Homo sapiens: one gene and its partners. The protein of the gene in region 2 interacts with the protein of the main gene of each other region in a pairwise test. Each region holds a gene or a part of one and is shown on either strand. Other genes may lie near its edges.

Region 1 (11,181 bases), on a different chromosome or scaffold from region 2:
GCAGAAGCTGAGTTACAAATGCTTCAGCAATGGCATGCCTCCTGGCTGCAGCCACAAAAGTTTTTGCTTCTGTTTCAGTAGATTTACTAACGTGGCAGTGAGGGTAGGCTTGTGGTTTTGCAGGAGATAAGCAAAACATGTAGGTGCCCTCAAGATGTGTACGACCATGGAACAGGAGACTGGAAGGACCCATGGATCCCAACCATGGACTGGGTTCCCCCAGTATGAGCCATGCTGAGAAACTGCTGGAGTGCCAAGGTTTTACCTATAGTTGCTTAACGGACCAGTGCTTTCTGACTGAACTCCTCTCTACCCTGAATACAAGAGACCCTAATAGGTAGGATCGCCCCTATTCAGCATGAAGAAGTTACAGAAGATGGACCTTCATCCTTCTGCAACCCCTAGGATTAAGGGTCCTCTTGTAAAAGGGAAAGGGGAGATACGTGGGAAGCATTCAAACCAGAGCAACTCCATTTTGAATAAGGGCTAAGAAAAATAAAGCTGGATCACCAACCGGCAAATAAGGGCTGTACAGCCTGCAATTGCGTTGCTCAATTAATTTAAAAAAGAGGCCACCTTATGCTAATAATAATGATAGCTGTGGTGGTTTTTACAAAAAAGAGATGGGGGCCATGTTGGGAGAAAAGCTGAGTGTTGGGAGAGAAGCTGAGGCAGGGCTTGCATGTCTGCTAGACGTGTTGGCTCCTTGCTTCTAGCACTCCCATTATCTCAAGCAGCCATGTTTTTCATTCACTTGATACACTGTTTCCTTTCAACCCCCACATCCTCACCACCTGTTTGAGCATCAATAAATAGCGTGGGCTCCCAGAGCTCGAGGGCCTTTGCAGCCTCCACACTTGCGATGGCCCCCTGGTCTTACTTTCTCTCTCATACTTTTTCTCATTCCTTTGACTCTGCTGGACTTCATTGCCCTCAAGACCTGGTGTTAGGTCTTATCACCCCAACAATGACTCCCTGCTCTATGAGCTGCAGAATTGATGTTGTGTTATCAGGCAAGGAAACACATGAATCTCCTTGTACATTTTCATCAGAGCTCTGAGATGACTAGATGAATTGTCAATAAGTAGTAGTATTTTTGAAATAAATCTTTTTTTTTTCTAAGCAGTAGGTCTCAACAGTGGGCTTACAATATTCAGCAAACTATTCTGTAAACAGATGTGCTGTCATATAGACTTTGTTGTTCTATTTAAACAGCATATACAGAGTAGATTTAGTATAATTCTGAAGGGCCCTAGGATTTTTGGAATGGTAAGTGGGGTAGCTTCACTAGCTGCGTCAGCCCCTAACAAGAGAGTCGGCCTGTTTTGTGAAGCTTTAAAGTCAGGCATTGACTTCTCTCTAGCTATGAAATTACTAGATGGCATCTTCTTCCCATGGAAGGCTGCTTTGTCTATATTGAAAATCCATTGTTTAGTGTAGCCACTTTCATCAATGATCTTAGCTAGATATTCTGGATAACTTGCCGCAGCTTCTCCATCAGCACTTGCTGTTTCACCTTATGCTTTCATGTTAGGGGCATGGCTTCTTTCCTTCAACTTCATAAACCAACCTCTATTAGCTTCCAATTTTTTTTTCTCCTGCAGCTTCTTCACCTCTCTCGGCCTTCATAGAAGTGAAGAGAGTTAGGGTCTTGCTCTGGATTAGGCTTCTGCTCGGGGGAATGTTTTAGCTATCTTTAATCTGAACCACTGAAACTTTCTCCATATCAGCAACAAGACTGTTTTGCTTTCTTATTCTTATATTCACTGGAGTAGCATTTTTAATTTCCTTCAAGGACTTTTCCTTTACATTTACACTCTGGCTAACTGGTACAAGAGGCCTAGCTTTGGCCTATTTCAGCTTTTGACACCTTCACCTTCTTCACTAAGCTTAATCATTTTTAGCTTTTGATTTAAAGTGGGAAACATACAACTTTCACTTAGAGGGACTTGTAGGGTTATTAATGGTCTATTTTCAATACTGTTGCACCTCAGGGAATGGGGAGGCTGGAGGAAAGAGAGATGGAGAATGGCTTGTTGGTGTAACAGTCAGAACACACACATTTATCAATTAAGTTTGCTGTCTTATCTGGACACGGTCCATGGCCCCCCAAAACAATTACAATAGTAACAACAAAGATCACTGATCACAGGTCACCATAATGAATATAATAATAATGAAAAAGCTTGAAATATTGTGAGAATTACTAAAATGTGACACAGAGACACAAAGTGAGCACATGTTTTTGGGAAAATGGCACTGATAGATTTGTTCAATGCAGAGTTACTTCAAACCTTCAATTTGTAAAAAAAAAAAATGCAGTATCTTTGAAATGCAATGAAGTGAAGTGAAATAAAACAATGTATGTCTGTATGTAGGAGTAGGATTATTGGGCTATATGGTTAGGTGTATATTGAACTTTATAAAAGTGGCCAAACTATTTTTAGTGCGGACATACCATTTTGCACCCTCACCAGTGTGGTATGAGAGTTTCAGTTGCTCTGCAGCCTCATCAACACTTGGTATTGTCAGGTTTTTTTTTTTTGCCATTCTAATAAGTGTCTAGAAGTTATCATTGCAGTTTTAATTAGCATTTCACTAAAGACTAATGATATGAGTATCATTTCATGTGCTATTTGTCACCCATATATCTTCTTTGGTAAAGTGTTTGTTCAAATCTTTTGGCCATTGAAAAAAATTTGGTTGTTTTCTTATTGCTGAGTTTTGAGAGTTCTTTGTATGTATTAACTACAATTCCTGTGTCAGGTGTATGATTTGCAACTATTGTCTCCCTGTCTATTCTTGTCTTTTCATTCTCGTAACCGTGTTGTTTGCAGAGAAAATGTTTTAACTTTTAGAAAGCCCAATTGATTTACTTTTTGTTATGTATTGTGCTTTTTGGCTTTGCATTTTCAACCTTCAATTTTTATATATTAAAAGTAAAATTTCTAAAAAAAGATTTCCTCCTAGCAATAGCAGATTATCTACATGTATGTAAATAATAATTACCTATATCTCCTAAATGTGAAATTAAATAAGACATTAGACAATTTGTGCAGAAAAAACAAATTAAAGTTAAGAAAGATGAGACAAGGATCTAATAATTTTTAAAACACGGAACTAATGTCTTTTCGATTTTGGATAATAGTTGCATGTAGACACATGAAATAAAATGCCTCATGGGGTTTCAAATACCCATTCATTTATTTACCCATTCATTTTAGAATATTTACTGAGCACCCACTATAAACCAGGCACTGTGTTCTACGTGGGGGCATATGGATTCATATGATGGGACAAAGAACTTGCAATAAATAGATCAATGGATAACACAATGTGGTAAGAACTGTGATTGACATATATTCAAAATGAACCAGGTTTCTTTTTTTTACATGTGGTAGTGTCATCATGCCTATCTCAGTATGAAATTGTTCATGTGACTATTTGATCTAAAGTCTTTCTCTCCTACTCAGGTGATGGGTGCACTACAATCTGACTTCACCACTATACAATTCACCCATGCCAAAAACCACTCGTACTTCCAGAGCTATTGAAATAAAAATATACATTAATTTAAAAAATCAGAAAGGGCTGCTTTTAAAATAATCAATAAACAAGGCTGGGCATGGTGGCTCATGCCTGTAATCCTAGCACTTTGGGAGGCCAGGATGGGCAGATTACCTGAGGTCAGGAGTTCAAGACCAGCCTGGCCAAAATGGTGAAACCCCATCTCTACTAAAAATAAAAAAATTAGCTGGGCATCAACAACTCAGGAGGCTGAGACATGAGAATCACTGGAACCTGGAAGGCAGAGGTTGCAGTGAGCCAAGATTGTGCCACTGCACTCCAGCCTGGGTGACAGAGTGAGACTGTCTCAAAAACAAAAACATGAAACAATAACAACAAAAAATAATCAATAAACAGATCTGTAGTGAGAGCTGGGCAGGTTGGGAAGGTGCAGGGTGAGACCACCTATGGTAAATGTGAGCTGGCAGACTCAGCAGGGGTGAAACAGAGGATGGCACTCAGCCATGTTGGGCAGGGGTGAGAAGGAGAGGGCTTAAAATAAATAAATAAATAAAGTGCGTCTCTCTCTTCGTGCACTCCAGGAGTGTAAATACAATGTATGTTTTCTTCATCGCGTCACTTTGCTCCAGCCTGGGCAGCAGAGTGAGACTCCGTCAAAAAAAAAAAAAAAAAAAAAAAAAAAAGCTTGCTTCTGATGTACAGAAAGAAGGCGTTGCTTAATTCTGCCCCGGGCAGTTTCGAAGACTTGATTTTTAAAAAGGTGGTATTCGAAGTGAATCTTGAAGCAAAGATAGGAACTTGCTGTTGGGGCAGGAGAGAGTTGAGAAGGAAGAGAAGCACAGCATTCTAGCACTATGAAATCTTAGACATGGGTGTGTGAAGGTCCACGGACAGGCAGTTGTAGGTGGAGCAGAACCATCCTGCCTGCGGAACTGTGAGGACAGAAGATGAGACCAACGTGGAAAGCTGGGAACGGACTGGGAAGGAAACGCCTTGCCAACCAGGCTCCATTTGAACTTCCTCACAGTGGGGTTGGAACTGAAGAATTTTAAGCTTGAAAGTGACATGATTACATTAGTGATTCTGAAATAGAGAGGGCAGCGTGTGGTCGACTGGAGAGCAGAGCAGTGAAAGCCTGTTGCTGAAGCGCTGGTAAGGCATGATGAGGTCTGGCAGTGAAATAGAGATGCTGGGAGGGATGGATCTAGAAGTCATCCTAGGAGACAGAAACACAGGACTGGGCGATTGACAAGATGTGAAGGGAAAAGCAGAAGGAAGATTTAACATTTTCGCTCTTCTGATGCCTGAGGAGTGTTGTATGTTGGTAGTCAACATTTTAAAAAAATTTTTAAATTAATATTAATGTTCTTTAGAAAATACCGTAAAGTATAAAGAACAAGAAAACCATCCATTATCCCAACACGCAGAGATAACCACTGCAGACATTTCATATGCATATCTTTCCAGCCTTCTTTGAAAATATATTTCTGAAAAGAGATCCTAAGGGTTCCATCTCTACCAGGAACTCGGCTCTCATAAACTGCATTAATACGTTGAACTTCACTTTGAACCCAAATATGAATATTTTCACTAAACTATGCACCGATTTTTTTTAAATAAAGTGAATAAGTACATGGACCGGAACTGCCAACTGGAAACTAAATGAGTGTCAGCAGTGACACCCGGGACATGCCCTCATTAGTAGATGCTAACCCGCAGAGGTAACCTGCCTAGACACGGAGAGACATTTCCAAGTTCAGGTTGATTAATTCATATTCAATTCATTCACCCTGCTGAGCCCTGCAGGAAGACAGCGCGGCAGCGATCTCCACCTTGAGGGGGCGCTAATTATTTTTTGCCTACTTGAACCCTGAGCTTGGGCAAGCCTGTGCACATACACTAAGAGAAAAACTTTCTGAGGTCTAGCAGCTGTCGATCAAAAATAGGTTATCCTAGGCCCTTCCAAATAGAGGGACTGGGGAAGGAAGTTTAATTTAAAAAAGAGTAAGAATGTTTTTATGTTGGGATGGATAGATTATTGGGAAGGCAGGGTGATTCAGGAGAGGCCTGAAAAAATGCTCCAGGGGTAGAAAATCCAAGGAGAAGGTGGAGGGGTCTCAAAGATCGACAAATAGCCACATGGCGGGCCGCCCTTACGAAGGTAGCCTTGCAGGCCAAGTTCGGGGGGAGGTGGGGAGGCTGGTTCCGAGTTTCCGGGCATATCCGTGGAGTCCTTCCAGACCTTCCTGGGGACCTTCCCCGGTCACCCCGGCTCCCCGCCGGCCCCCCGCGCTGCTCAGGGGAGAGTAGGACTATGACCCACTTCCACTCTAAGGCTCTAGATCGAACCGTCCAGGGGGGTCAAACACGATTTACAACAAGGAAGAGAAAAACCAATACGTCCCAAGAGGGCTGCAGGGGCTTTAACTGGAGGAAGGGTTGGGCAGAGGGTGGCAGTATTATGCCCTGGACTTTTTTGCACCAAACCCATAACCGGATTCCCACTTCCTAAGACCTGCCTTCCTGGCTCTTCCCACCGCCTCCATGCTCCGCCCCGCAGCTTAGGTCTTTTACTGCAAACGTCAAGTGGTCTCCGCCTTCCCTGGGTTCGGAGCTTCACTTGCTCTTGAGCTCTGCGGTCCGGCGGATTTCGCGGGGCCCAGGGGATGGCGGGGAGTGAGATTTGGCCAGGGTCATTTCACACTGCCGGGCCTGCAGCCACGCACGCAGCTGCTGGCCCGGCTGAGGCTGGCGGCTAGGGAGAGGCGCCAGGGGGTCGCGCACAGGAAGGTATCGGTGCACCCTGAGCAAACACTGCTCGCTTCCAACGCTCACTGGGAACAGGCTTCCCGGGAAGGTCCCAAATCTCTCCAGTTCCGCTCACCCTGCGGGCGGGAGCGCGGCGCCCGGGTGCCCCACCTGCGCCGGGCGGTCGGCTCCCGCTGGCCGGAGTTTGCAGACTTGGCGCTCAGGCCGATTCTCCCGGAGTTGGGCCGCGCGCGCCGGGCCAATGAGCGCGCCCCGCGGAGGGCTCCGCTCCCCCCGCGCGCGCTGATTGGTCCCGCGGCCCTCGAGGCCGGGCCGGCCGCGGCTGCGGGCGGCGGCCAGTGCCCGGCGCGAGTGGGAGTGGCGCGCGCGCCCCTAGCCGCCCCCCGCCTCTCCCCGCTGCGCTCCCTCGCTCCTTCCCTGAGCTCCCGGGCTCCGGCAGCGGGCTGGCGGGGCGCCGCATTGCACACTCTGGGGGCGCCGCAGTGTTCGTGGGATGGGGCAGCGGGCTGCAGCTGGCGGCCGGAATCCGCGCGCAGCCCGGGTGAGTAGAGGCGGGCTTCCCGGGAGAGCACAAAAGAACAGGGGATTGGTGCCAGCGGCCCCGGCTTAGGCGGGGCCTGGCCAAGGCAGGGAGTGCGCTGAGTCCCTGGAACTACCCGATGCTAGGGCAGTCCCCTGGGGCCAGAGGAACTGGGGTCCCGGCCTCCGGCGTTTTGCCCCTAGTGGGCAGAGAGCCCCGCGAGTAGCCTGGACGGGTCCAGAGGGGCGTGTGTACTCGTGTGTGTTGGGCTGGCGCGTGGAGGGTGGGATGGAAAGGTCAGGAGCTGCCAAGTTCAAGGCTGGAGGAACCTTTCCCAGGAGTAATTCAGCATCTTCTCACGGCCCAACATGCGTCCACCAGGAACTCCAGCCGGAGGGAGTTCCTGGGCGGCGGACTGGCAGCACCCCACATGTTGCTGCGGGGCGGGGGGCAGTGGCGGTAGCCCGGCTGCGGCCACCCGGAGCCTCTAAGGGAGGTGCAGTGTGCTGGAGGTACCTCCCCGCCGCTGCAAGACCACGCTAGGCCTTTCAGCCATCCACCCCGACAACCCAGGGAAGGGACCATCCACCCACAGAGTTGGGATTTGGCCTGGGCTTGACTTGGCGACCTGTTTTTCTCTCCGGTAACAGCAGTTCCGTTGATTCACATTTGGCTAAGCGTTCAGTTACAACCTAAAGCTCACTATCTGACGGTCTGACTCGCTCTGACCCCCACCATATCCTCACTATCTCTACCGCTGCCCTCCTCCAGTCCCCTCTCCCGCCCCAGTATCTGCCCTGCTCCTCACTGCGGGGCTCAAAACTTGGTGTTTGAGCATGATTGCCTTCGGTGTGGTCCTTGGCATTTTCAAGTGTCACAATCACATCCCGTTTCCTAGAGGACTCCAAAGACTTGTTATAATGGGATCGGGGGAGAGAATTGGGTGGGGGGGAATGGAAGAGGGTCTTTGGTAGTCACTTGTTGGAAGAACAGCATTGACCTCCCAGAGCATATGACAAAAAGAATGTTAAGCTTCTTTCTATGGTAACCTACCCAAGGTGTGACCTCCAAAATTCAATTTTCTTTGTGGGAGGCAAGGGAGTTTAGATTCTCCAGGGGGAAGCTTATTTCTTGTTAAATTGACTTGCGGTGACATACACACTGTTCTGCTCTGCTCTGGCCAGCCATTGCAGATGCCATGATATTATTAGAGCAATTCCCTTAAAGCCATTACATTTTCTTTCGAGTGAGAGGAACTCGAGCTAGCTGTTTAAAATTTTGGATCTGCACCTTATTTCTCTAGAAGACATTAATGGTTACTGTATATGCGCTCACGTGTACCAAGTTTGCAAAAGGTATTTGTGCAATCGCCCATGAAATGGGTTAATGCACATTTATGTTAAACCCATTTAAATGTAAAACATCTATCTGTTTTCAATTTTAGTTTCCACCTCGACCAAAGGCACCAGACTGAAATAAGACTTAAAAGAGGCTTCCTTGTTTAAATAGAGGTTTATAGAACTCTAGTCCTGAGAGCACACAGTAAGCTTTCTGAGCTTGTAGGCACACAAAGCTTGTTAAAAATTGTGAAATGGTTCCTTGAGTTAGAAATAATGGAAATGCTTCCAGACCAATTAAGACAGACAATTGATGAAGCTACACTCTCAAGCTGTTGACAGTCTTTGTAAGGTGAATGTTTATAGTACATAATGCATAAATCGGGCTGATTCTAGGCAAATAATATCAAGTAAAAAACCATACCATGTGTTGTATCATACTGGATAGTTTATATGGCATATTGAAATCTACTATTAAAGTGTCTGAGGAAATCATATCTTTATCATCCCCATTTCACAGATGAAACAACTGAGGCTTTCAAAGATTGACTTTTCCAAGATCAATAGCAGAGTTCAGTCAAGTGTTTTTCAAATTCTTTCCTACCTCACCCGTTCCCTTCCTTCCTTCCTTTTTGGTGTTTACCTACTTCTTTGTTGTTTACCTACTTCTGATTTCTGCACCTCTTTTTACTGTTTAACCCATAGCTTGAGGGACCATTGTGAATCATCCCCAAAAGGCTTTGCTGTCTGCTCAATATCATTTAGCTCCCACTAAGGTGAGGGCTGATAAAGAATTAAGGTGAAAACTAGGAATAGTTTTAAAGAGCTACCCTTTTCAAAGAGATACGTTATTTTTGCTAATGAGTTGTTAAAGGTACATATAATCAAACCCCTAAAGGATGATGTCCTAATTGTAATGTTTCAGAAAGACAAGTAACAGTAGGAGAGATGTGTGAGAAATATGTAAGTCTCCTATTTTATAAACACACTCCTTATAAGCTCTGTAGACGATTAACAATAGAAATAATAAATGAATATCTCATTAGTGCTATTCTTATTTTAAAAAGAATTGACAAAATAGATGACTTAAATAAAATCAGAACTACTCTGGAAACACAAAAAGCACCCACTTATCAAAAGTCCTGAAATCCTCATTGACTAGTGTACAAATGTAGCAGAAGACATTGGTTAGAGAGAAATCATATTTTTACTTGCAAAGCTAGCAATAAGAAGCGTACAGATATCTGCCTATCTGATTATTTTTTAAGGGCTCATCATCTGCAAATCTTTTCTTGGAAAATGATTGCTTACAATATTTACTTGTGTCATTGCATACTATTTATTAATGAGATTAATCTCATTTGCAATAACGTGGTTAAGTGTTGAGCTTACTACTAGTAAGTCTTGGTTAAGTATGTGGGCTTTGGATTCAAGTCTTGTCTTCACATACACTAACTGTGGGACTTCAAAAAATGATAGAACTTCTCTGTGCTTTAGTTTTCTTATGTGTAAAGCATGAATAATGCACCTACCTCATGCAGTTTTTAAAATTTATTCATGCAGCAAATATTCAGCAATTGCCTATTAGGTACCAGCTCTGCTCTAGATGCTAGGGATACATGTGCAAACTCCTTGCTAATGAAGTTTACCGTCTGGTGCCTGAAATCTAATGACACAATGCATTTAAAATGCTTGGGATGGGACCTTACACCTACCAAATGCCCCGTTATTGTTAGCTGTTGGTATCATACATTCTTTCAGGAACTGTTCAGAGTGCCTACCAGATGTAACACAGATTGCAGCATGTAATGATGAATGATATGTGTTTCAATTCAATTAAGTCTTCTAATGGAAGAGGGGACTCCAAAGAAGGACATCAAGAGTATAATCAGTCTCTAAAAGGGAATTCAATGCTGATATGTTAGGGAAGAAATGAAAAGAAATACTTAATTTACCCATAAGAAAGTGGGAAGCATACGAATTACCTTATAGAAACCCAAAAGTGATAAGAAAAACAAGTCTTGTACCCAAGCTCTGTAAAACACTAAACTCATAGTGAAAACACATAGGGAAAGTAAAGAAAAGAAAAAGAAAGCTTACCTGGATACATGTAATGAAAAAGGAAAATTTGAAGGGTCAGTTTATTAAATTGACCTTATGAAGGGCAACAGATCCCAGGCATACTAGAAATGGGATAACCAAAAGTGAATTTGTTAAAAAAAAATCCTTGCAATGGATTTCCAAAACGATAATGAAAGTCCCTTAAATACTGTGAAATAAGGATTGTGGAACTACTCATCTTTCATCATACCAAACATGTACTGGGAGATAAAAAGAGATAAAACAGCGTGTAAATGAATTCTTTGCTTCTGTTTTTGCTGAGTAATATTCCTACACCCAGGCTTTCTCAAGCAATACACACATTGGAGGTAATAGATCAAGAAGTGGCAAGTGCTGAGGATATTCCAGACCTAATCAGCAGACTAATTACAGATAAATCACCAAGACTAGATGGCCTTCACCTAAGTATATTGAAGAAGCCTGGTGTGTACGTGACAGCAATCTGGGGTATTGCTGGGGGATTGACTGGTGTCCTTGGGGGCTCCAGTCAGGGGAGGGGTTTCCAGAAGGACTGGGGGCCAAGAAACCAGACCCGTGTCCCTGTGGATGATTGGGAGATGGATATTCAAAGTAAACACAGATTACAGCAAGTAACGATTTTTTTTTTTTTTTTCTGAAGAAGGGGGATTGACGTATTAGAGTTAAAAAAGGAAAATACAGTCATGCACCTCATAACAATGTTTGGGTCAAGAATGCACTGCTTATATGATGGTGGTCCCATACGAGTATAGTGGAGCTGAAAAATTCCTATCACCTAGTGACATCTTAGCTGTGGTGATGTCGTGGCACAACACATTACTTACCTGTGGTAATGCTTGTGTAAACACACTTACTGTGTTACCAGTCTTAGAAGAGTATAGCACGTACAATTATGTACAGTACATACTACTTGAGAATGATATTAAA
Region 2 (7,758 bases):
GTGCAGTGGTGCAATCTCGGCTCACTGCAACCTCCACCTCTGAGGTTCAAGCAATTCTCGTGCCTCAGCCTCTGAGTAGCTGGGACTACAGGCGTGTGCCACCACGCCCTGCTAATTTTTATATTTGTAGTAGAGACAGGGTTTCACCATGTTGGCCAGACTGGTCTCAAACTCCTGACCTCAGATGATCCACCCACCTCGACCTCCCAAAGTGTTGGAATTACAGGCATGAGCCACCACGGCCGACCTTATGCCCATTTCTTATAGAAAAATATATTATTTCATTGTTACTGAAGAAATGTTTCACAATCCCTACCCCCTAGAAAAATTACCTACAGTCCCTCACTGAATACCTTAATAGAATAGTAGAGATATCAGTTTTTGGGTAAATCTTTACATCTGACTCTGGCATTTGGTAATTTGATTTTTAAAAGTTTATGGTAAATACCTTCTCCTTTTTCTATATGAAAAATGGTTGCAAAACATTCCATTTGGTACAGTAATTCTCAACCCAAGGGTAAGAAAGTTATCAAAATCTCCTAGTGGGGTTTTTCAATTGCACAGGCCATGCTTTCTGAGCCCTTGTCTGATTTATTTTTTTGGGTGAAGAACTCTACCCCCCCCACCGTAAACTTATGTTGATCATGAAAATGTTTTGTCCCTTCTTGAAGTTGTTGAACAGATATTTTATAAGTACAGTTGGTCCTCTGTATCCATGGGTTCTGCATTGCATTTCAAAAATATTGGGGAGCACAAAACAATGAAAAATAGCAACACAACAATAAAAAAAATACAGTATAACAACTATTTATATGGCATTTAAGTTGTATTAGTTATTATAAGTAATCTAGAGATTATTTAAACTGTGAGCCAGGTGTGGTGGCTCATCCCTGTAATCCCAGTACTGTGGCATTACAGTGGGAGGCTGAGGCGGGCAGATCATCTGAGGTCAGGAGTTCAATACCAGCCTGGCCAACATGGCAAAACCCCATCTCTACTAAAAACTAAAAATACAAAAATTAGCCAGGCGTGGTGTGTGCCTGTAATCCCAGCTACTTGGGAGGCCGAGGCAGGAGAATTGCTTGAACCCAGGAGGTGGAGGTTGCAGTGAGCCAAGATCACGCCACTGCACTCTAGCCTGGGTGACAGAGCAAGACTCCGTCTCAATAAATAAATAAATTAAAGTATATGATATGGAAGGCTGTGTGTAGGTTATATACAAATACTATGCCATTTTTTATAAGGGACTTGAGCTCGAGCATCCTCAGATTTTGATATCTAAGGGGAGGAGGGAGGTGTCCTGGAACCAATCCTCTGTGGATACCAAGGGACAATTGTACTCCTGGTACCAGGCACTGTTTCAGACTCTGGGAAATCCATAGTAAAACAGATACCAGCTCTGCACTCACAGAGCTGACATTCTAGACTCTAGAATCTATAAGGAAATGTATAATTAGGCACATAATAATAAGTGCTTTGAATAAGAATAAAGCAGAGTAAGTGGGGGGAGGAGTGCTATTTTATACATGGTATGTCTGATAAGGTGATATTTGAGTAGAGACCTGGGGTAAGGGAGCCAGCTATGCAGTAGTAAGGCATAGTGAGATAAGTAAGACAGAGAAAGCATCAGGTGGAAAAGCCCCCTAGTAGGAGTGTGCCGGATATCTTCAAGTCACAGAAGGAGGCCACTGTGGCCAGTATTCAGTGAACAAAGGTATAGCCATAAGAGGTGAGATCAGAGGGGGACTGGAGGCCCCCATCATGTAGGGCCTTATTAGGACACAAGAACAGCTCACCTTTACCTGAATGAGATGGGAGCCTTTGGAAGGTTTTGAATAGACATATAACATGATTTTGATTTAAATTGTACAGTAATCTCTCAGGCTGTTATGTGGAGAATAAAGTAGGTGCGCAAAGATAGATCTGGGAGACTAGGTGTCTACTGCAATAGTTCAAGCAAGAAATGATAGTAGCTATGAAAGTAATCAGTAAGAATGGGTGAGAATCTGACTATATTTTCCTTAAATATGTTAAACAAGAAGGTTGATAACACTGAATCATCCAGTCAGTGGATGAGCCATTCCACTAGAGTGGGTAAATTATTTTCCAGTTTTTTGTTCATGGTCGGTAAAAACAAGCCTCTGATTTTTGCCTGTTTTTTTGCCCATAGGTACCAGCATGTGTTACATAGAAATCTCATTTATTTGGCTACCATTGCAGATGCCAGTCCAACCAGCACTTCAAAAGCAATGGAATAATCTTTCAAAAGCAATAGAATAATCTTCCATTTGGCTGTCGTGAGGAGTAATTGAATGTAATCCATCTCTTACAAAATGGAGACAGGGTCTTTACCAACTCAACTGGTTAAAACATGAATGAAACCTCTGTGGCTCTTTCGAAACGTGAAAATGTGAAGAAAGCTACTAACTTAGCTGTATTCTCATGTAAATATTTTTTAAATAATTAAGCAAATCCCTCAATAAGTTGAGCCCAGGTGTCCTCTTTCCTGAACTTGGAGCATGTTTGGATAACAAAGACATCACTGGGATGTTCAAGTCTACTTTTTAGTTTCAACCTGAAGAGGAAACTCAGTAGGTGTTGGGCAGGAATTGGTGAGATTCCTGACTTGATACCTTGCTAAATGGACATGTAACTGTGTGCTCCTTCCTATCAGTTTGTAAATGTGGTCCCCCTGACTGCTGTTTTCAGATTGCTTTGAAATAAAGCTTATTTTTCTATAAAATACTGATGTGGAGGTATAGAAGTTTTCATGTAATAAGTATTCCATTTGGTTTTCAAGAATAACTGTGAGGACTTAACCATAAAGTATATAAAAACAATACTATTATCATTGCCAACAAAATGAATAGTGATTTCTAATTATTATCTAATATCATCTGATAATAGATGATGTTTAATTTTCTTCAGTTATCAGATAGTCTTTTTGTTGATTTGTCTGAACCAGAATCCAAATAAGATTCACATGTTGTATTTTGTTGATGTTCCTTTAAGTCACTTAAAGAATACTTAATAGTTCCTTTTTTTCTTTATTTGTTGAAATAACTAGGTGTTTACCCTAGAATTCTCTCGTGTTCTACATACAGTTGTATCTCTGTAGTGTTGTTAATTATGTGCCACTATCATCCACTTTTCCTGTAAACTAGTAGATCTAGAGGCTCATGCAGACTCATGTTCTAATATTTTTAGCAGGAATATATTAGAAGGTGATAAGTACTTGCTTTTGCATCACATAAGGAGTGACCTGACTTTTAAGTTCCCAACCAGCCTTTCACTTAAATTATGATCCACCCAGCTTTGATGTGGTAATTCATTAGGGATTACATAATGAGGATTTTCTAATTTATCATTCTTTCTGACTTTATTAGCTGTATTCTATAAAAAACTTTCACTCTTGGAGATTTATCTGAAAGATGAGGCAAAGGGATTCTTGTAAGTATATCCAAAATTAGAAGCCCAGGTCCCTGCTCCTTTTTTTGGAGTCAAGGGTTGCAACCTAGGGCAACTGTAAAATACATGTAAATAGTGAAGAGATAACTCATTTTGAATCCCAGCTCTATCCCTTAACCTCTGAAAGCTCTGTTTCCTCACCTCTAAAGTGAGGATAATGAAAATAGCATCTGCCTCCTGAGGTTGTGAGACTGAGATAACGTGGTTGAGAACTGGGCACATGTTAATCTATGTTAGCACTAATGTGCTGAGGGCTCTGGCTCTTTCTTTTTTCTTTTTCTTCTTTTTTTTGGTTTTGTTTTGTTTTGTTTTTGTTTTTGTTTTTTTTTGAGACGGAATCTCGCTCTGTCGGAGTGCAGTGGTGCAATTTTGGCTCACTGCAACCTCTACCTCCTGGGTTCAAGTGATTCTCCTGCCTCAGCCTCCCAAGTAGCTGGGATTACAGGCATGTGGCACCATGCCTGGCTAATTTTGGTATTTTTAGTAGAGACGGGGTTTCTCCATGTTGGTCAGGCTGGTCTCGTACTCACGACCTCAGGTGATCCACCTGCCTCAGCCTCCTAGAGTGCTGGGATTACAGGCGTAAGCCACCGCGCCCAGCCGATCATTTCTGTTTTCTAGAAAATTATTTTGTCTGTTTCCCCACTAGCATTCCTGATGGTTTTCCAGAGTCCTATCCCCTGAAGTTCTAATTGCTGGCATAATCACACTCTAAAAGGCTGAACCCCAGAATCATTACCTGAAAATTCGTACTACCAGTGGTTCTTCTTCATGATAAATCATGGACAAATTAAGCCTGAGTTTGTAAACTCTTTGGATACCAACTTTCTACCACTCTTGGAAGAGATGGAGGAGGTGTCAGTCATTTTGGTTGATACTAGCCCTAGGCCTGCCTTGTCCCAGGAGTTTCTTCACCTTAATCACAGACCAAATTGCATACTTTTATCTTCGAATCATCTAAAATATAATTTCAAATCACAAGACAGAATAAAATAATCTTTGAGAGAGGCAGAACCTTAGAAAGGAGATATTTTATCTCATTTATTTTACAGATGAAGAAAGTAAACTTCAGAGAGATCAAAGTGATTTGTCTCAGGTCACATAACCAGTGGCAGAAAGAAGAGAATTGCTGGAATGTCAAGATAAGAATGAATTCTAGGTTTAAAGTTGTTTAAGTATATCCCAAATTAAATATTTCATTCCTGAGCTCTAAAACCTATTTACATTGAAGCCTGATGTCCTAAACACGGTAATTACAAAGCTGGGTAATGGTCTCCATCCTTTCCTTTCATGAATCCATGTATGAAAGTTAGCTTTATCAAACTATTTCATCTCCAGAAAGGCATGTACATTTCATACTGTTCAAGTCTGTAATTGTCAGCAAAATCAGACCCAAGACCGCTAGCTTCTCAATTCAGCCTACAGACTGCTCCTCTAATAGACACACTGGACTCTCAGGGAGGTAGAATGGGCAAGCTCTAACAAAGGACAGCACTTCTGTGATGGTGTGGAAGTACCAAAGGTTTGACTGTACTTTAAAAAGGTGACATGGACGGCTGGGTGCAGTGACTCATGCCTGTAATCCCAGCACTTTGGGAGGCCAACGCGGGCAGATCACAAGGTCAGGAGATCGAGACCAGCCTGACCAACATGGTGAAACCCTGTCTCTACTAAAAATACAAAAAAATTAGCCAGGTGTGGTGGCGTGTGCCTGTAGTCTCAGCTACACTGGAGGCTGAGGCAGGGGAATCGCTTGATCTCAGGAGGCAGAGGTTGCAGTGAGCCAAGATCGTGCCACTGCACTCCAACCTGGGCGACGGAGCGAGACTTTGTCTCAAAAAAAAAAAAAAAAAGGTGACATAGGTGCAGAAACAGGTCAGAAATGATCTAAGTCAAGCTTGTCCAACCCGCCACCCAGGGGCCACATGTGGCCCAGGACAACTTTGGGTGCAGCCCAACACAAACTCATAAACTTTCAAGAAATATGAGATTTTGTTGCAATTTTAAGCTCATTGGCTATTGTTAGTGTTAGTGTATTTTATGTATGGCTGAAGACAATTATTCTTCCAATGTGGCCCAGGTAAACCAAAAGATTGGACACCCAATCTAAGTGAGCCCAATTTCCAAATTTACTATAAAACTACATTAATTAAAACAGTGTGCCACTTCACATCCATTAGGATGGCAATAAAGAAAACCAAAAAATAACAAGTGTTGGTGATGATGTGGAAAAATTGGAAACTTTGTGCACTGCTGATGGAAATGTAAAATAGTGCAGCTATGGAAAACAGTATGGTAATTCCTGGAAAAATCTTAAATGGAATTAGCTTATGATCCAGTGATTCCATTTCTGGGCATATATCCAAAATAATTGAAAGCAGGTTTCAAAGAGGTATTTGTACACCCACATTCATAACAGTACTATTTACAACAGCCAAAAGGTAGAAGCAATCTAAATATCCACTGACATATGAATGGATAGACAAAATATGATATACACATACAATGGAATATTATTCAGCCTCAAAAAAGGAAATTCTGACATGCTACAACATGGATGAAATGGAAGACATGCTGAGTGAAATCACCCAGCTACAAAAGAACAAATTTTTTTTTTTTTTTTTTTGAGACAGAGTCTCGCACTGTCACCCAGGCTGGAGTGCAGTGGCGCAATCTCGGCTCACTGCAATCTCTGCCTCCCGGGTTCAAGTGATTCTCCTGCGTCAGCCTCCTGAGTAGCTGGGATTACAGGTGCCTGCCACCACGCCCTGCTAATTTTTTGTATTTTTAGTAGAGACGGCGTTTCATCATGTTGGCCAGGCTGGTCTCGAACTCCTGACCTCATGTGATCCACCCGCCTCAGCCTCCCAGAGTGCAGGGATTACAGGTGTGAGCCACCGCACCTAGCCTACAAGAACAAATATTACATGATTTTACTCACATATGAGTAGACAAATACTAGAGTAGACAAATTTACAGAGAGAAAGTAGAAGGGTGGCTGCCAGGAACTTGGGAAAAGAGGGAAATGGGGAGTTACTGTTTAATAATACAGAGTTTCAGTTTTGCAAGATGGAAAATGTTCTGTGGACGGATGGGAGGTACTGAGGGTTGTACAACCGTGTGAAATACAGTTAATGCCAGCGAACTGTACACTTAAAAATGGTTAAAATGGCAACTTTCACATAATGTGTATATATATCTATAGATCTATAGATATCTAGATATCTGTAGATCTATAGATCTATAGATAGATTTTTTTTGTTTGAGACGGAGTCTCGCTCTGTCACCCAGGCTGGAATGCAGTGGACCGATCTCGGCTCACTGCAAGCTCTGCCTCCCAGGTTCACGCCATTCTTCTGCCTCAGCCTCCCGAGTAGCTGGGACTACGGGCGACCGCCACCACGCCCGGCTAATTTTTTGTATTTTTAGTAGAGAAAGGGTTTCACCGTGTTAGCCAGGATGGTCTCGATCTCCTGACCTCGTGATCCGCCTGCCTCGGCCTCCCAAAGTGCTGGGATTACAGGCATGAGCCACCACGCCCGCCCATGTAATGTGTATTTTATAGTTTAAAAAAAAAACTTATAAAATAGTGTGGTACTCAGACACAGATCATTGGAACAAAAATCCAGAAACAGACCCACACATATATGGTCACAAGGCGAAGGTAATTCAATGTATAAGAGTCTTTTCAGGCCGGGCGCGGTGGCTCACGCCTGTAATCCCAGCACTTTGGGAGGCCGAGGCGGGCGGATCACGAGGTCAGGAGATCGAGACCATCCCGGCTAAAACGGTGAAACCCCGTCTCTACTAAAAATACAAAAAATTAGCCGGGCGTAGTGGCGGGCGCCTGTAGTCCCAGCTACTTGGGAGGCTGAGGCAGGAGAATGGCGTGAACCCGGGAGGCGGAGCTTGCAGTGAGCCGAGATCCCGCCACTGCACTCCAGCCTGGGCGACAGAGCGAGACTCCGTCTCAAAAAAAAAAAAAAGAGTCTTTTCAACAAACGGTAATGGAACGACTGTATATCCCAATAGGAAAATGTTGACACTTACTTGACAACATAAGCAAAAATTAATGATATTAGATCATATCATAGACTTACACGTTAAAGACTATGTAAAACATATATGAGAACACAGAATATCTTCAAGAACTTGAGGTAGGCAGAGATTTCCTAGCACAGGAAAAGCACAAACCATTAAAATATAAAACTGACCAATTGACTTAATCAGAATTAAAAACTTCTTTGCCAAAAACGTCAAAACAATGAAACGACAGGCCCAGATTGGGAA
Region 3 (10,672 bases), on a different chromosome or scaffold from region 2:
GGGATATGGAATGCTCTTTCAATGTCTAGCTTCAGTTTTCATTCATCCTCCTGCTCAGCACTGTCAGCCAAGAGCTTACTCAGCAGACACCACATACTGCAGCAGTTCCTAGTGAGAAAATCTGTGCCACTAGAAAATGCTTCACTTCCATTTCCTCACCTGGGCAGTTCTCTGTTTAAAATTGTGGGCTGATTTGGTCTTCCTCTCCTCCTCCCACTGTTACTGCCCTGCAGCCCTTGTTCAGGTGTACAGACCCTTATTCTGGCCTCTAGTGTCCTTGTCTGTCATGACACACCCTTCCGCCCAAATACCTCTGACCCCAAGGCTGGAATGGGGCTGGTAGGAGATAAGTTTGCTTACTCATAGTCATGTCCTTTCTCTTGGCACCTGCTTCCCTGCGGTGTCCTCAAATGGATTTCTGTGTGGCAGTGGAGTGATTGCATGAATTTTTCTGTAACACATTAACTTTGTATTATTATTAAGGGAGTTTGAGAAAGCTTTGCTTATAATGTCAAGGCAAGGAGGTAAAAACTGGAGCCCAAAGAAATTCCCTTAGGGCAAGATTATGTTATAATAGAAAATTGAATTTCCTGAGGCAGTGGCTGCCACCCCTTTTCAGATGTTTAGTCCTGCAAATAGCATCTTTCTTGTAGTCTGTGACATGGATGGGGATGCTAGGGCCCTTAGGGGCAAGGGGACTAAACTAAATCAAGTTGAGTTTTTTTCCAGCAGGGGTTAGGGGAGGTACTCGCTGTTGATATTTGACACTAGAAAGTAATCTTTTTTACAAAACTGTTTTTCTAGGTGGGTGGAAAGTGAAACTGCCACATCCTTGTTGGTTTAGTCCAAGAGATCATTTGCAACAACAGTAGATGTCCGGGTTTTGTTTCTGTCTTTTTATTATGAAAAACTATGTTAAGGGGGAAAATGTGGATTATGGTAACCAGAGGAATCCCTAGCCTTGTTTTCCTTAGAAGACTTGTTTAGTGTTTTATCAGACGTCTGTTGTAGTTGTAGACAGGAAAGCTTGTGAGAAAAACACCACATGGAGCCTGTAAATGTTTTTGCACAACCTGTAAAGCATTCTTGGAAGTGGCCAGTAAAAAGGGGTTTTACCATTTAAAAAAAAAATGTAACTGTGTCATTGTTTACATCTGTAACTTTTTCCTCCCCTGTTCTCATTACACCATTCTGGCGAAAATGTAGGCAAAGTAGCTTCCAGTTTTAGAATAAATAACCATTTGGATTGAATTCACCCTATCTCCTGTGGCTGCACTGACTGGGGCGGAGGGTGTCACTGGGTTATTTATTCATTTTTTAATGCCTCTTTCTCAGGTCGCATGGGCTCCAACCAAGGAGGACTCTCCTCTTGCATGGTGGCTGCCGTTCCCTCCCTATTCTACCATGCCTTCACTTGGGAGCCAGCCATGCAGTCAGTTGACATGGGTGGGTAGTTATTAGTCTATTTAGTGCTTGCTTAGGCCAAGAGTCGAGCCATTGAAGTATAGGAAAATAAATTATAACTCACGACCTCTGTATTTGGCCTATGCAAAAACTAGTTGGATGCTTGAAGTTAAATGTACATTGTGGAGCCAAATAAGTATATTCATGAATAATTACTGCTAGGGGGAAAGCCCACTCATTCAACAGAAGTTTGATGGGGGTTATTTTCCAGTGAATCTGGAGAACGAGACGGTAAATTAAATTTACAACAGCGCCATTGCTTTTTTATTTTTTATTTTTATTTTTATTTTTTTTTTTTGACAGAGCCTCGCTCTGTTACCCAGGCTGGAGTGCAGTGGCACGCTCTCGGCTCACTGCAACTTCCGCCTCCTGGGTTCGAGCGATTTTTCTGCTTCAGCCTCCCGAGTAGCTGGGACTACACATGTGTGCCACCAGGCCCAGCTAATTTTTTTTTTTTTTTTTTCCTAGTAGAGACAGGGTTTCACCATATTGGCCAGGCTGGTCTTGAACTCCTGACCTCGTGATCTGCCTGCCTCAGCCTCCCAAAGTGCTGGGATTACAGGTGTGAGCCTCCGCTCCCAGCCACCATTGCATTATTAGCACTGAAATGATCCTAACGGCAGTTTCTAATAAATGGTCAGGGTCTTAAAGCTGAGATACCACAGGCTCATGACATCCAGTGTTCTGAAGGAGTAGTAGTATTGATGTAGATACTGCTCTAATTCCTACCCTCTGTATGTGACACGGATTCAGATACCCGGGTTTACAGTTTTGTACCCTGAAGGCCACCCTTAATTTTGGTAGCCATCTATTCTTTAGGACATTTAAGTTGCTGTTAGAGCTAATTAATCATTTTTTAAAGTGGTTAATCATAGCTCATGCCTGGTCTCTAGTTACTGCTTAAACCCCATTTTCCCACCTAGCGCTGTAGCCACGCAGTTATAATCTGATGGGTAGGAACATTGAGTGTGCAGAAAAATTGAAGAGAGGCGCTTTGTTTTGTTTCGTTTTGTTTTGAGACGGAGTTTCGCTCTTGTTGCCCAGGCTGGAGTGCAGTGGCACAATCTCGGCTCACCGCAACCTCTGCCTCCCGGGTTCAAGTGATTCTCCTACCTCAGCCTCCCAAGTAGCTGGGATTACAGGTACCCGCCACCACACCGGCTAATTTTTGTATTTTTAGTAGAGACAGTTTTCACCGGGTTGGCCAGGCTGGTCTCGAACTCCTGACCTCAGATGATCCGCCCGCCTCGGCCTCCCAAAGTGCTGGGATTACAGGCATGAGCCACCACGCCCGGCCGGCCAAAAAGAGGCTTTCTTAAAAATCAAGGTTACATTTATTAAACACTCTAATTTTTTTTTTTTTTATTTAACCATGTCTGAGCTGTTGTGGAAAATTTCACTTACTCCCCTGGAACTTGCCCAACACCGTGATACAGTGGGGGTGAGGGAGGCAAGGTGCTTGGTCCCTGCCATGCCACATTTGCCATTTAAGCATGTACAGTACAATCTATTCATTGGGTATTTGGGTGCCTGATATGTGCCATTATCAGGATACAGGGATTAAAACGGACCTGACCTGATTGATCCTTCCTGGAATTTTCACCGTGCCAAGAAGGAACTGAGGCTCCTCCGCAACAGAATGGGGGTAGGGTCCCACTCCAGGAGGGCAAACTTCTCCCGTTTCTTCATCTCTAGGATGAGGGAATTAATTAGAAGATCTCCAGGACTTCTTAGAGCTCAGAAGTTCCATCAACAGTAAAAAGTTGCTTGGGACACCTTAAGGTGACCCAAGTTCACTGGGTGTCCCTGGAATTCATGAAGATATCCTTAGGAGGCTAAGTTCAGTTGCTGGTGATAACAACCTTTCTTCCTTTGGTTTCCTTTATCCACTTTGCTGTCTTCTGTGCAAAGATACCTGGAAGCTGGAGGTAATGAGCTGTCCCTACTATTTCAAAGCAGCCTCCCTTCCCGAAGTATATCCAGGCACAAAACAGGAGCCAGCCTAGGCTTTTCCTGGGGAGGATGCGTCCCTGAGTTTAGGGGACCTCTAGCAGGAGCACACGTACTGGGATTGTTACGTTCTTTGTCTTGTCCCTGGTCCCATCTCGCCTCTGTGCACCCTTGGAAGGAAAAGATTCTAGGAGGCATTCTGGTGTTCGTAAACCTCCGCCATGTTTGAGTCCTGGAGATGACCATGACATGTTAAGCCTTAAGTTTGGTCCCTGCCCAGACAGCATGCTGGACTTTTGCAAGGCACATTAGGGGTGCGGCCACTGCTTTCTGGCTGCTGTGGCTGAATCGGCCTGAGGGGAAAATGAAAGCAAAAACAAGCCCCAGTTCTACTAGGAAACCCAAACTGAGCAACTTCAGGCTTATCCAGCTCCTGGGAAGACCAGGAAGCAACTGAGGAGCGGTGCACCGAGACGGACAGGGTCGGGGGTTAACCCCCTGCCGCTAATATTTCCGCTCCAAAGGGAGCCTCTCCTTTCTTGGCAAAATGTAGAAACCTAGATTCCCTCGCAAGATCCACGCGACCAGCGTCGGCCACGCTGTACTTCCTGGGGTCCCCTTGTTTAGTGATTCTTCGTTATGGCCGCCCGTGTGCCTTCGACTCAATCGGGAGGACACCGAAATCCAGATTTCGGGGTTGCAGGGCGCGGGCCCCGGCTTGGTTAGGGCAGGGGCAGCCATTTTGAGACCAGAAGAGGGCGGAAGGGACCATATTGAGAACGCCGGTTGCCTGGGGGCCGCCATTTTAAGAGAAGCCCTGTACGGTAAACTCCGTGACGTGGGGGCTGCCATGTTGGTACGGCCATCTTGGAATGGGAGTGGCTGTGGGCGCAGCCATCTTAGGTATAAAATCGGCTCCAGTCGCGGTAACTGAAGCCAAGCTCCGCCCCTACCCTCCTAAGAGTTCCTCTGCTGTACGACTGCACTCCCGCACCCTCCCCTAAATCCCCCCTCTTCGGCCTGTTTACCTTTTAACTTGGCTTCGTTGCACGTTTGTGTGTGTGTGTTTGCTCTTCGCAGCCTCTTGAGCGTCTTTTGTACTTAATTCTTACACTGTGGACGCTCTCTCGCGCCCGCCATCCCCCGACCCCTCTGATCTCCGATCCTTGACGATGTCTAGCCTGCATTGATTGGCCCTTTTCCCTGGGTATGGCAGATCTATTGCTTGATGATCCTCTCCCCCCAAGAATTCTAACACAGGAGCTGTCCTGAGGCTCTGGATGACTTTATTCTTCAAATGGCTTTACCCTCCCAGTAGCTCCAGGTGAGACTGAGAGCAAGAACCTGGCCCATCCCTCTCCATTGTCTGAGCAGGTCACCGAGGGAAGCGGGCAGGACGCGCTGGCAGAGTCTGACGGGGCCCTGCTGTGGGTGGAGCAAAGGGTGCCTCATATCTCTGGGGTGCTTGGGGTCGGCCACAAAGGTGGTAGGAAATGGGGTCGACAGATAGGTGAGGGTGGGCCTTGTGCTTCAGATAACCTCACATGGTCAGGCAAGGGTTAGGGATGGGATGCAAGGAGCCTAAGGGGCTCACAACAATTACTGACCTAAGGAAGGGCCCAGGAGAGGGAAAAGGGAGGAGTTGTGAGAAGGGACAGGGGAGCTCAGAGGAGAGCACAGAAGAACTTCTTCTCCCGGAAGGGGTTCTCCGAAGTGGGCACAGGGGTGATGAGGGGATCCTCACAGGCGTGGGCATCACAGTAAGTCATCAGGTCTGCTGCTGCCTTGGACACCTGGGACACAGCCAGGAAGGGTATTGTTAGCCAGGACCTCTGAAGGGGACTGCAGCCTCCCTCCCCAAATGGGTTCTCTTTTGCCATCTCCAGGGCTCCTTACGACTTGTCTTCTCCCTCATCCCCCCCAGAGGCCTGGGGACAGCTCTCTCTACAGAGCCCCAGACTCCTCCCCTGACCTCAGGGAGTGAAGGAAAGAACGCATCTCTTATCTTGAGCTTTGGGAACCTGCAGCACAGCACAGCCTGGCCAACTAATGGGAGCCAGCCAGGGTCCCACCTACCTTTATCCGACACAAGCTGGCTTCAATCTTAAGCTGTTCCACCATCTTGCGTGCTTGCCCAATACTCATAGTGCTGTTCACCGGGGTCTCACCTTTCATCCTGGAAAAAAGAGGGACCTCTCAGAGCACAGTCTCAGCTGGAGGCCCCCCTCCATGCTCACTCCACACCAACCTTTACAAGGCTGTGGTCATACCCCAATATTTTGTTCCCCTCCTATCCTCCTCCTCCTCCTCCAGTGGACTGTCTCATCCCTGTATTCCTCATGGAAAAAAATAGGGTGGGATGAGGTGCTCCCCAAACTCCCTCATGGCCTGGGCCACAGATCATTAAACCTTACACAAATGATTTAAGGCTTTTCAGCCCTTCAAACCATGTGTGTTCCCAGCTCTGAAGACCTCAACCAACCCTGATGAGGAGGGCACATCACCCCTGTCTGCTCCAGTGAGCCCCAACAGGAGAAAAACAGGCCATTACTTACCTGAAGCCACAAGCGGCAGTAGCAGCCCTGGGTGTAGGGTCAGTGGAGGGTACCAAAACCTTCTGCCTGAAATGGGTGCCCCACCCAGTAGGGAGTTGCAGCTGAAAGTATCTGATGCAGAAGCAGTGACTATACGAAAGGAGGCCCCTGGGGAGGGCCAGGCCAGAGGTCTGGTCTCAGTTTCTGCAGCTCAAGCACTGTCTGGATGGCTGGTACCTGAAGGATGAAGGATGCTAGAAGGAGCTGCTCAGATCCTGGAGCATACCAACTGCCTGGCCAGTGGGGGAGCCTAGCTGCCTGCATCCCTGCGCACACCCCCACTGTCGCTAGTTCACTGCCTGCCCCTCCCCCATTGCAGGCATCCTGACTCTGGGCTAGAGACCTCCCCAACAGAGCTGAGGCCAAGGCCGACTCCCCCTCTCAAATGGCGTGGTCTGGGCCTATGACGGCCCCTGCAGTGGAGTCTGTACTGGCTGCGGGGGACCCTGCTCATTTGAAAATCTGACATCAGCTGGGCAGTCGCCCCCCTCCTCCTTTCCTCCCTCTACTCTGACACAGCACTTAGCACCTGAATCTTCGTTTCTCTCCCAGGGACCCTCCATTTTCCATATCCAGGAAAATGTGATGCGCCACAGGTATCAGCGTCTGGATCGCCACTTCACGTTTTAGCCACAAGTGACTCAGTGGAAGATCCAGAGTCAACAGAGGCTCGTCAGGAAGATGTCTACAGAAAAGGTAGACCAAAAGGAGGAAGCTGGGGAAAAAGAGGTGTGCGGAGACCAGATCAAAGGACCGGACAAAGAGGAGGTAGGGGCCCTTGTGGGGACAGTCAGCAGAAATATACTGGAAATAGGTGGGCTGGCGTGAAGGGGGCGGGGGGATGGATTGGTTTTAAGAATTTCATTCATTTTGAATAGATTACTTCCCACGCCCGCAGCAGTGTGCAAAGATGTACACAACACTGGCCTTGCCTCTGAAGGACTTTATCTGGGGTGATTAGACGTCTACAAAATAGAAGACTGCCAAAAGCTAGTCTAGATAATGTGCTGTGGGGACTCTGAGGGAGAGTGTATCCAGTTAGGGTCAGAGGAGGTCCACAATGCTACCACGCTGGGAACAGGGCACTAATCTGCCTGCGCAACAACGCAAGAGGCCCAGGTTGCCGCAAACTGCAACATGCTCTAGGCGAATGCCCCCGCCTTAGATGCCTACAGGTCCTAGGAGCTGTGGGCGATAAAAATCAGCGCCAGCTGGATGACCGCCTCACTCGGCCGCTTCGCGGGTGAAATGGCCTGTGGTGAAGGTGTGCACGGAGGGCTGTGATTGCAGTCTCAAGGGAGAGCCGAGCGGAGGCTGCAGTCAGCGCATCCCCTGGGGCACATCTTGGGGCCTGCAGGGAGGCAGGCGTCTTTCCCCTTTGGTCACGGTAACCGGAGGGAAACCTGCCGCAGAGAGAGCCAGTGGCGAGCGCAAGGAGACAGCGACCTCGCAGCTCGGGAAGGCTCCGCCCCGTCCCGCCCCGCCCCGCCGTGCTGGACCCCGCCCTGGGCTGAAGCCCCGCCTCCCACGGCTACAAAAGCGGCCGGCGGAGAGGGGCGGGACTTCCCCGGGAGCCGGAAGTCCCGTCTCACGGTTGCCCTGGCAGCGCGCGAGGCTGGTGAGTCGGCAGCCCTGTGGCAGCCGGCGGGCTGGTTTCCATGGTTGCACGATTAGGTAGGGGCTCCGGGCGCTTTGCCCACCCCCGAGCTGGAGGGGACTGGCGGGAAGCGGCGGTTGGCTGCAGGGCGCTCCGCCGGGCGTGGGGTGTAGCCGTGTCGGTGAGCGAGCTCTGCTCGAGGCGGAGAGGAGAAACTCGGGAAGCAATTGTGGCTACTCTAAGGCTACTGGTTTCGAGTCAGGCCGTGCGACCTTAGGCAAGTCGCACATTCTCTCCGTGCAGCTGCCTAGCAGTGTGGATTCAGTATCACCGTGTGTGTAAAGCTCTTTCTAAGAATCGTAAGGTGCTTATTCTTTGTTATATAGCTGTGAATGAGAATCAAGGTGGTTTGTCCCAGCATCAAATGACTGGAGAAGGAATTCCACTGAGGAGATTTAGCACTGGGCGGGAGGGAACACAGTGGAGGAAAGGGAAGGGGTAATTGGCAGAGTGGCACAATCATTTGGAGAAAGGCCATATATATGAAACAATGACTTTGCTATCCTGCTATCTCTCGTTCCTCAAAGCCAGTCCAGTAAGCTGTTTTGTCCCCACCTCCCTGGGGAAAGGAGTCACTCTTTTCCCTCACCCTCTCTTTCCAGGAACCACCAGCTGCTGCATCCCATGGCCAGGGGTGGCGTCCAGGTGGCAGAGCAGCTAGGAACGCAAGGCCTGAACCTGGGGCCAGACACCCTGCTCTCCCGGCCATGGTCAACGACCCTCCAGTACCTGCCTTACTGTGGGCCCAGGAGGTGGGCCAAGTCTTGGCAGGCCGTGCCCGCAGGCTGCTGCTGCAGTTTGGGGTGCTCTTCTGCACCATCCTCCTTTTGCTCTGGGTGTCTGTCTTCCTCTATGGCTCCTTCTACTATTCCTATATGCCGACAGTCAGCCACCTCAGCCCTGTGCATTTCTACTACAGGTGAGAGGGGCCTTCTATCAAAATAGAGGACTCCTATGGGAATTGTAAGGCCCTTGGAGTTCATTCAGTTCAATCCCCTCATTTACAGATAAGGAAAACTGGAGCCAGGTGTGCTTCCAGGGCCTCTCAACTTTCACAGCCCAAGGCTAGATTTGGGTTGCCAGGGCTAGGGTTCTAGTTCTACCTCTGATTACTGAATTCTGGTTAAAAAAAAAAAAAAAAAAAGGAAAAATATCCACTTCTATCATTATGAGGATCAATTCTATTTTGGTTGGATCACCCCTCTCTCAGGGCCAATGTAGAATTTTGAGCCAACTCAACCCTTTAGTGCAGAACCAACCTGGCTTTCAGTAGAGGAGCTATTAGGAAAGCAGCAGTTTGCTTTTTACATTACTGCCTCTCAGTCCCTGAAAGTCGGCTACACAATAGAGATTATGGAAACATAAGATGAGTAGGCGCATAAACTTGCTTCCCAGAGAGTCTTGCGTCTTGACTGGCCCCTTAGGTTCCTTCTCATTTTACAAACCCTGCCAAGTGCCAAATTCTCTCTTTTTTGAGGTGGAGTCTCTCTCTGTTGCCCAGGCTGGAGTGCAGTGGTGCAGTGTCTGCTCACTGCAACCTCCCAGGTTCAAGCAATTCTCGTGCCTCAGCCTCCCAAGTAGCTGGGATTACAGGTGTGTGCCACCACATCTGGCTAATTTTTGTATTTTTAGTAGAGATGGGTTTTTTTTTGTTTTGTTATTGTTTTTGTTTTTGAGATGGAGTCTTGCTCTGTCGCCCAGGCTGGAGTGCAGTGGTGCCATGTCGGCTCACTGCAAGCTCCGCCTCCTGGGCTCACGCCATTCTCCTGCCTCAGCCTCCTGAGTAGCTGGTACTACAGGCACCTGCCACCATACCCAGCTAATTTTTTTTTTTTTTTTTTTTTTTTTTTAGTAGAGATGGGGTTTCACCTTGTTAGCCAGGATGGTCTCAATCTCCTGACCTTGTGATCCACCTGCCTTGGCCTCCCAAAGTGCTGGGGAGATGGGGTTTCACCATGTTGGCTAGGCTGGTCTTGAACTCCTGAATGCAGGTGATCCATCCGCCTTGGCCTCCCAAAGTGCTGGGATTACAGACGTGAGCCACTGTGCCCCACCAAGGTCTCTTCTTCTTCTTCTTTTTTTTTTTTTTCTTTTTGAGACAGAGTCTCGTGCTGTTGCCTGGGCTGGAGTGCAGTGGCGCAATCTCAGCTCACTGCAACCTCTGCCTCCAGATTCAAGCCATTCTCCTGCCTTGCCTCAGCCTCCCAAGTAACTGGGATTACAGGTGCCTGCCACCACACCTGGCTAATTTTTTTTTGTATTTTTAGTAGAGATGGGGTTTCACTATGTTGGCCAGGCTGATCTCGAACTCCTGACCTCGTGATCCACCCCCTTGGCCTCCCAAAGTGCTGGGATTACAAGCATGAGCCACTGCGCCCGGCCTAGTTCTCTTTTCTTAACAGTGGTTGTAGGACCTATCAACAGATGCAGAGAAGGGCGTTATAATCAATGGTTTAAAGTCATTTTTTCCCTTAAGTCCCTGGTCCAGAGCTATAGTTTCTAAAGCAGAGCTTCTTAAACTTTTAGGAAATGGATCTTATGGCCCTTCCTGCCATAAAAACATATATACGGCCGGGCGCGGTGGCTCACACCTGTAATCCCAGCACTTTGGGAGGCCGAGGCAGGCGGATCACAAGGTCAGGAGATTGAGACTATCCTGGCTAACACCGTGAAACCCTGTCTCTACTAAAAATAAAAAAATTAGCCGGGCGTGGTGGCAGGCGCCTGTTGTCCCAGCTACTTGAGAGGCTGAGGCAGGAGAAATGGCGTGAACCTGGGAAGCGGAGCTTGCAGTGAGCCGAGATCGTGCCACTGCACTCCAGCCTGGGCGACAGAGCAAGACTCCGTCTCAAAAAAAAAAAAAAAAAAAAAACGTATATGCATGCCCAGGCATATGCTGCACCCACACCCCCACATGCAAATTTGCCTACAATTGGAGGGGTTCATGAGCTTCTTAATAACCATCTGTAGATCCTTTTGGAGGCGTTTTCTCAAACTAGGACCCAGA

Evidence for each region.
Region 1: the proteins of SS18L2 (region 2) and LYPD6 interact in binary tests that used the Homo sapiens proteins (3 or more experiments, as listed by UniProt).
Region 3: the proteins of SS18L2 (region 2) and GNG3 interact in binary tests that used the Homo sapiens proteins (3 or more experiments, as listed by UniProt).

Annotation. Positions count from the first base shown.
Region 1 is NC_000002.12:149,323,885-149,335,065, forward strand, and holds the start of LYPD6 (ly6/PLAUR domain-containing protein 6 precursor), read left to right. Parts: upstream 1-6,702; 5' UTR 6,703-6,838; intron 6,839-7,336; exon of another isoform or gene 7,337-11,181.
Region 2 is NC_000003.12:42,592,252-42,600,009, forward strand, and holds the end of SS18L2 (SS18-like protein 2), read left to right. Parts: intron 1-2,170; coding exon 2,171-2,258; 3' UTR 2,259-4,683; downstream 4,684-7,758.
Region 3 is NC_000011.10:62,703,213-62,713,884, reverse strand, and holds GNG3 (guanine nucleotide-binding protein G(I)/G(S)/G(O) subunit gamma-3), read right to left. Parts: upstream 6,210-10,672; 5' UTR 5,970-6,209; intron 5,591-5,969; 5' UTR 5,590-5,590; coding exon 5,491-5,589; intron 5,208-5,490; coding exon 5,079-5,207; 3' UTR 4,684-5,078; downstream 1-4,683. Other genes in the region: BSCL2 (seipin), read left to right, coding at 6,690-6,776, 8,268-8,584. UniProt on the Homo sapiens protein: Guanine nucleotide-binding proteins (G proteins) are involved as a modulator or transducer in various transmembrane signaling systems.